Homo sapiens: one gene and its partner. The protein of the gene in region 1 purifies or fractionates together with the protein of each later gene. This does not show direct contact. Each region holds a gene or a part of one and is shown in the gene's direction. Other genes may lie near its edges.

Region 1 (3,448 bases):
GCGGTTACTGCTGCATCTGGTGGTGTAACGGCCACAACAGGCACGGTGACAATGGCAGGGGCAGTGATTGCGCCGTCAACAAAGTGCAAACAGAGAGCGAGTGCTAATGAAAACAGTCGGTTCCACCCAGGGTCCATGCCTGTGATCGACGATCGTCCGGCAGACGCGGGCTCAGGGGCGGGGCTGCGTGTGAACACTTCTGAAGGGGTTGTGCTCCTGAGTTACTCAGGGCAGAAGACCGAAGGCCCACAGCGGATCAGCGCCAAGATCAGCCAGATCCCCCCGGCCAGTGCAATGGACATTGAATTTCAGCAGTCAGTGTCCAAGTCCCAGGTCAAACCTGATTCTGTCACAGCATCGCAGCCTCCATCCAAAGGCCCTCAAGCTCCTGCAGGCTATGCGAACGTGGCCACCCATTCCACGTTGGTACTGACCGCCCAGACATATAATGCCTCTCCTGTGATTTCGTCTGTGAAGGCCGATAGGCCATCCTTGGAGAAGCCCGAGCCCATTCACCTCTCGGTGTCCACGCCTGTCACCCAGGGAGGCACAGTGAAGGTTCTCACCCAGGGGATCAACACACCCCCTGTGCTGGTTCACAACCAGCTGGTCCTCACCCCAAGCATTGTCACCACAAACAAGAAGCTTGCTGACCCCGTCACCCTTAAAATCGAGACCAAGGTCCTTCAGCCGGCCAACCTGGGGTCCACGCTCACGCCCCACCACCCTCCTGCTCTGCCCAGCAAACTGCCTACAGAAGTCAACCATGTCCCCTCGGGGCCCAGCATCCCAGCAGATCGAACTGTCTCCCATTTGGCAGCTGCAAAGCTAGATGCTCATTCTCCTCGACCAAGTGGACCCGGGCCATCCTCATTCCCAAGGGCAAGCCACCCCAGCAGTACTGCATCTACGGCGCTCTCCACCAACGCCACAGTCATGCTGGCTGCAGGCATCCCAGTGCCCCAGTTCATCTCCAGCATCCACCCAGAGCAGTCTGTCATCATGCCACCCCACAGCATCACCCAGACTGTGTCCCTGAGCCACCTCTCCCAGGGCGAGGTGAGAATGAACACTCCCACGCTGCCCAGTATCACCTACAGCATCCGGCCAGAAGCGCTTCACTCTCCTCGGGCTCCGCTGCAGCCCCAGCAAATAGAGGTCAGGGCCCCACAGCGTGCCAGCACCCCGCAGCCAGCCCCAGCTGGTGTGCCTGCACTGGCCTCCCAGCACCCTCCCGAGGAGGAAGTGCATTATCACCTTCCTGTCGCTCGAGCCACAGCCCCTGTGCAGTCAGAGGTACTAGTCATGCAGTCTGAGTACCGACTGCACCCCTATACTGTGCCACGGGATGTGAGGATCATGGTGCATCCACATGTGACGGCAGTCAGCGAGCAGCCCAGGGCCGCGGATGGGGTGGTGAAGGTGCCACCAGCCAGCAAGGCCCCTCAGCAGCCAGGGAAGGAAGCTGCCAAGACACCAGATGCCAAAGCTGCCCCCACCCCCACCCCTGCCCCCGTCCCTGTCCCTGTCCCCCTTCCTGCCCCTGCTCCTGCCCCTCATGGTGAGGCCCGTATCCTCACAGTTACCCCCAGTAACCAACTCCAGGGGCTGCCTCTGACCCCTCCTGTGGTGGTGACCCATGGGGTGCAGATTGTGCACTCCAGCGGGGAGCTGTTTCAAGAGTACCGGTACGGCGACATCCGCACCTACCACCCCCCGGCCCAGCTCACACACACTCAGTTTCCCGCCGCTTCCTCTGTTGGCCTGCCTTCCCGGACCAAGACAGCTGCTCAGGTGAGCCAGCCAGGTATCTCCCCACTGTCTGTTGGGCATGTGCTTGTGGGGCTCAGCAGGCTTTTAAGCCAAGATGTGTGAAAGAAATCAGGGGCCAGGTGTGGTGGCTTATGCCTGTAATCCCAGCACTGTGGGAGGCCCAGATGGGAGGACTGCTTAAGCCCGGGAGTTCGAGACCAGCCTGGGCAACATGGCAAAACCCCATCTCGTACAAAAAAAAAAAATTACAAAAATTAGCCAGGTGTGGTGGCACACACCTGTGGTTTCAGCTACCTGGGAGGCTGAGGTGGGAAAATTGCTTGAGCCCTGGAGGCAGAGGTTGCATTGAACCAAGGTCGTGCCACTAGGCTCCAGTGACAGAGCGAGACCCAGTCTCAAAAAAAAAAAAAGCCGGGCATAGTGGCTCACGCCTGTAATCCCAACACTTTGGGAGGCCAGGGCTGGCAGATCACTTGAGGTCAGGAGTTCAAGACCAGCTTGGCCAACATGGTGAAACTCTGTCCCTACTTAAAGAAAAAGAAATCCGCCTTTTGGTAAAGATAGTGGTTGAGTACAAGTGAACTGGTCAGCTAGTCCCTAAAGATGTTGATCTTTTCATGAGTTTAAAGAGCTTTCTTAGTTCTGAGATGAAAGTATTAGATCACATCATGGGGAGTTCTGCATATGGGGAGGGAGCTCTTGCTGGGTAGCATCAGCAGGAGGCAGGTAATAGGGGATCTCTCCTTACCTGGAACCCCGAAAGCAGCTCCGTTGATTCAGGCTCCTTCTGTGGGCCTGACTTAACGGGAGATGCCACATCTTATCCTTTCCCTGTGGCCCTTTGGGTCATTTGTTGGTCTCAGGGGCTTGTGCACAACAGACTGACTCTGTCCCTTTGCCTTCCTTCCCTACACCAGGGCCCTCCTCCTGAAGGTGAGCCCCTGCAGCCTCCTCAGCCTGTGCAGTCCACACAGCCTGCCCAGCCTGCACCACCCTGCCCGCCCTCCCAGCTCGGTCAGCCCGGCCAGCCACCAAGCAGCAAGATGCCTCAAGTGTCCCAGGAGGCAAAGGGGACCCAGACGGGAGTAGAGCAGCCTCGCCTCCCAGCTGGACCTGCAAACAGGCCACCTGAGCCTCACACCCAGGTTCAGAGGGCACAAGCAGAAACAGGCCCGACTTCCTTCCCCTCCCCTGTGTCTGTCTCCATGAAGCCTGACCTTCCAGTCTCTCTTCCCACTCAGACTGCCCCAAAACAGCCGTTGTTTGTCCCAACAACCTCTGGCCCCAGCACCCCACCAGGACTGGTTCTGCCACACACTGAATTCCAGCCAGCCCCCAAACAAGATTCCTCTCCACACCTGACTTCCCAGAGACCCGTGGATATGGTTCAACTTCTGAAGGTAAGCATGAGCAGGGGCTGCCCTTCCTGGCCCCCAAGTTTTATGCCATGTCAAATGTCCTAAGATTCCCTAGTTAACAGACCCACAAGCTACAGCCTCTGGCTGTGTCCAGCATGGCTCAGCGAGGGGCCATGAGCTCACTTCCTGTTTGTTTCCCTGTGAGCAGAAGTACCCCATCGTGTGGCAGGGCCTGCTGGCCCTCAAGAATGACACAGCTGCTGTGCAGCTCCACTTCGTCTCTGGCAACAACGTCCTGGCCCATCGGTCCCTGCCCC
Region 2 (3,823 bases), on another chromosome or scaffold:
TAGGGCAGACCAGGTGGCTCACTCCTGTAATCCCCACCAAGGCAGGGGCTCACCTGAGGTCAGGAGTTCAAGACCAGCCTGGCCAACATGGTGAAAACCTGTCTCTACTAAAAATACTAAGATTAGCCAGGCATAGCATGGTGGCACGCACCTGTAATCCCAGCTACTCTGGAGGCTGAGGCAGGAGAATTGCTTGAACCTGGGAGGTGGAGGTTGTAGTGAGCCAAGATCACGCCACTGCACTCCAGCCTTTGTGACAGAGTGAGATTCTGTTTCCTTTCTTTTTCCTGCTATTATTTCTTCATTATTGTTTTAGTAAAGCTCTTGTAAAGTTATGTTTTACATCTATTTTATATGTTATATTTAAAGATTAGTCAATCGGAGTGTCACATTGTTTCGACATTCACAATTTATGGAAATACAGAGTTCAAATGTGTGGTAGGTGGTTTGGAATTTACAAGTAGGGAGATACAGTTGGAAAGCGGGCCATAAAGCGAGGTTAAAAAAATTAAGAAGTATTTCCTCTACCCAAAATTCCTGTTGAAAACAGAGTTGAGGCTGGTTGCAGTGGCTCACGTCTGAATTCCAACACTTTGGGAGACCAGGGTATGCGGATCACTTGAGCCCAGGAATTTGAGACCAGCCTGGGCAACGTAGCGAGATGCCGTCTCTACAAAGAATACAAAAATTAGCCTGGTGTGGTGTGGGAGTAAGGCTGAGGCAGGAGGATTACTGGAGCCTGGAAGTTCACGGCTGCAGTGAGCTGTGAACACACTACTGCAGTCCACCCTGTGTAATGGAGGGAGAACCTATCTCAAACAAACAAAAAGAGTTGAAAACCATCGTCAGTGTTTTTCTTTATGGCTGTTTTTTTTAAGCTTTATGGTCGTTCCTATGTCTAGTTCCTATGCTGCTGCTCTGCTTTAACACTGGAACAATTTTCCCTAGACCTAAAGAATCTCTTACACCATAATCGAGACCTATCAAATACATAGATTTCATTTTCCTTAACATTTTTAATGTCTGATATGTGCAACCTCAATTTTGTCTGAGATTTGCTTTTGAAATATGTACTGTGTTTTTCTGTTTCCTGTCTTTTGATGGGCATTGCAAGTTACGTTTACCGTCCTGTCAATTTTTAGTTCAGGAGTTAGATGGTTAAATGTATTTGAAATAAAAACAATTTTTTTCATATTTAGAGAACATTTGTTTGTAATTTGGCTTTTATTCTCTTATTATATTATAGGCCGAAGATAACCAGATTGGATTTTAAGAAGAATAAATTAACCTTGGTGGTTGTAGAAGATGATGATCAGGTAGGAATAAAATTATATTCTATTACTTGTGTAACAGTGACTGTATTATGTGGTAACTTATTTCTCTAAAAGAGGGAATGTACCTCATTGTTTTAAAGAGCCACAGAATGCAAACAGTATAATTAATGCTTTAAATAATTTCCTTACTTGGGTCATACCATGCTAAAAATATGGTTTTCTGCCCTTAGGATGAAAAATAATATAAAAGTGTCTTCTTGTTTCCTCATTGATCGTATATCTGAGGTGTATAAAAAATTACATTTAAGTGAGCCAGCCAGTCACCCAGGCTGGAGGGCAGTGGCACTGTCATAGCTCACTGTAACCTTCACCTTCTGGGCTCAAGTGATCCTCCTGCTCACTCAGCCTCCTGAGTAGCTGGGACTGCAGGCACATGCCACCACCACGCCTGGCTGATTTTTTCATTTATTTGTAGAGATGGGATCTCAGTATGTTGCCAAGGTTGCTCTCAAACTCTTGGCCTTAAGTAATCCTCCCATCTTAGCTTCTCAGCATGTTGAGATTACAGGAGTAAACCATTGTGGCAGACCAACTTTATCTCTTTATTAACTGATCAAAAAGATCTACCTAATAATAATAAAGCCTTTTGAATTAAAGATTACCTTTGTATCAGTTACAGTGTGGTTCTTAATTGATACATGCTTGGATGCAACTCACATGCATTGTTCTTAATGCAAGAAGCCAGATTTAAAAAATTATGTATTGAATGACTCCATTTATCTGATACTTTAGAAAAGGCAAGAAGAATTTTACTTTATGCAAATTAATAAATTTTAACATATGCATACAGATACAGATAAAAGCAGTTTGAGCAAAATGTTAACAGTTGTTGAGTCTAGACACTATGTATATGGGTATTCAGTTTTTCTGTATGTTTAAACATTTTTATAACGATGAAAATTTTTTTTTTGAATCCAGTTCTTTCATTTTCCTCTGCTCAGTAATTTGACTGCTATACTTTTCCTGTTTTAAACACACAATGGGATACTATGCAGCCATAAAAAAGAATGAGATCTTTTTTGCGGGACCATGGATGGAGCTGGAGGATATTATCCTTAGCAAAGTAATGCAAGAAGAGAAAACCAAATACTACATGCTCTTACTTACAAGTGGGAGCTAAATGATAAGAACTTATGAACACAAAGAAGGCAACAGCGGACACTGGGATCTACTTGAGTGGGGAGGGTGGGAAGAGGGAGAAGAGTAGAAAAGATAACTAACTGAAAGATAACTGGACTTAATACCTGGGTGATGAAATAACATGTGCAATAAACCACCATGACACGTGTTTACCTATGTAACAAACCTTCTCTTGTACCCCAAACCCAAAATAAAAGTTAAAAAATAAAAAAGAGTGCTGCTCTGAACACTAAGGTGTATGTATATTTAGCTTTTGTAGGTACTGCCAAACCTCTTTCCAAAGTATTTAATACGAGTTTATACTCCCACCAGCAATGTTATTGGTGTTTTTTTTCTTTTTTGCTAATGTTTGGAATTCTGTCTTTTTCATTGTAGCCATTCTTGTGGAGTAGAATGTGGTTTTAGTTTGTGTTCCCCTAATGACAACTCTGGTTTAGTACTTATCTGTGTAGTTATTGGATATGTGGATATCTTCTTTATGAAATGCCTACTCAAATCTTTTGCTTATTTTTCTATTAGGTCATGTGCCTTTTAGTCATTGAAAAAATTCTTTGTATGTTCTGGATATTAATTCTCTGTCAGATATTAGTGTTGCAAGTATCGTCTACTCCTTGTTTTGCCCTTTTTCCACCACTTTTATTTTTAGATGACATATAATAATTGTACATATTTATTGCATACAGAGTGATATTTTGATACATGTATACAATGTGTAATTATCAAATCAGGGTAATTAGCGTATCCATCTTTACTGTCTTAATAGTGTCTTTAAATAACCTGAAAAGTACCAAAAATTATAAAATAGATAACCATCTTATTAATGATCTAGATTTAACATTTTTTACATTTTGCTTCAGTTCTCTTTTAGAGAAAGATAAATACAATTATGTGCATGAATAAATAATACCAACTAAAGTCTAACCCCCTGACTACCTACCCCCTTTCTTCTGGTACCTGGTCACCAATTTTGGAGGGTATTATTCTCATATATATTTTGTAACTTTTTCCAAATATTAACTCATGTTAGAATTGTTTTAAAAACTTGCATAATTATATATATTTGCAGCTTGCCTGTTTTATCTAAACGTGTACCTATGTAGATCTAACATATATATATGCTATTGTGTAATATGAATAAACAATAGCACATTCATTCATTCATCATTTATTCATTTATCCCTCTGCATAATTTTTTACATATGCCTCTATTTACTTGACCATTTCTCTTTTTTTGGACGTTTAGGGTTTGTACCAAGTTTTACTATTATAAATGAGACTGAGGAAATATACATCTTCATATATAACTTTTGATGTTTAGGAAATAATTTTCCCCAGAGAGGCAGTATAAC

Evidence for each region.
Region 2: the proteins of SPEN (region 1) and EPB41L5 purify together in Homo sapiens (co-immunoprecipitation; one large-scale study listed by IntAct). This does not show direct contact.

What each region holds. Positions count from the first base shown.
Region 1 is NC_000001.11:15,934,473-15,937,920, forward strand, and holds part of SPEN (msx2-interacting protein), read left to right. Parts: coding exon 1-1,794; intron 1,795-2,690; coding exon 2,691-3,173; intron 3,174-3,339; coding exon 3,340-3,448. UniProt on the Homo sapiens protein: May serve as a nuclear matrix platform that organizes and integrates transcriptional responses. In osteoblasts, supports transcription activation: synergizes with RUNX2 to enhance FGFR2-mediated activation of the osteocalcin FGF-responsive element (OCFRE).
Region 2 is NC_000002.12:120,085,925-120,089,747, forward strand, and holds part of EPB41L5 (band 4.1-like protein 5), read left to right. Parts: intron 1-1,246; coding exon 1,247-1,316; intron 1,317-3,823. UniProt on the Homo sapiens protein: Plays a role in the formation and organization of tight junctions during the establishment of polarity in epithelial cells.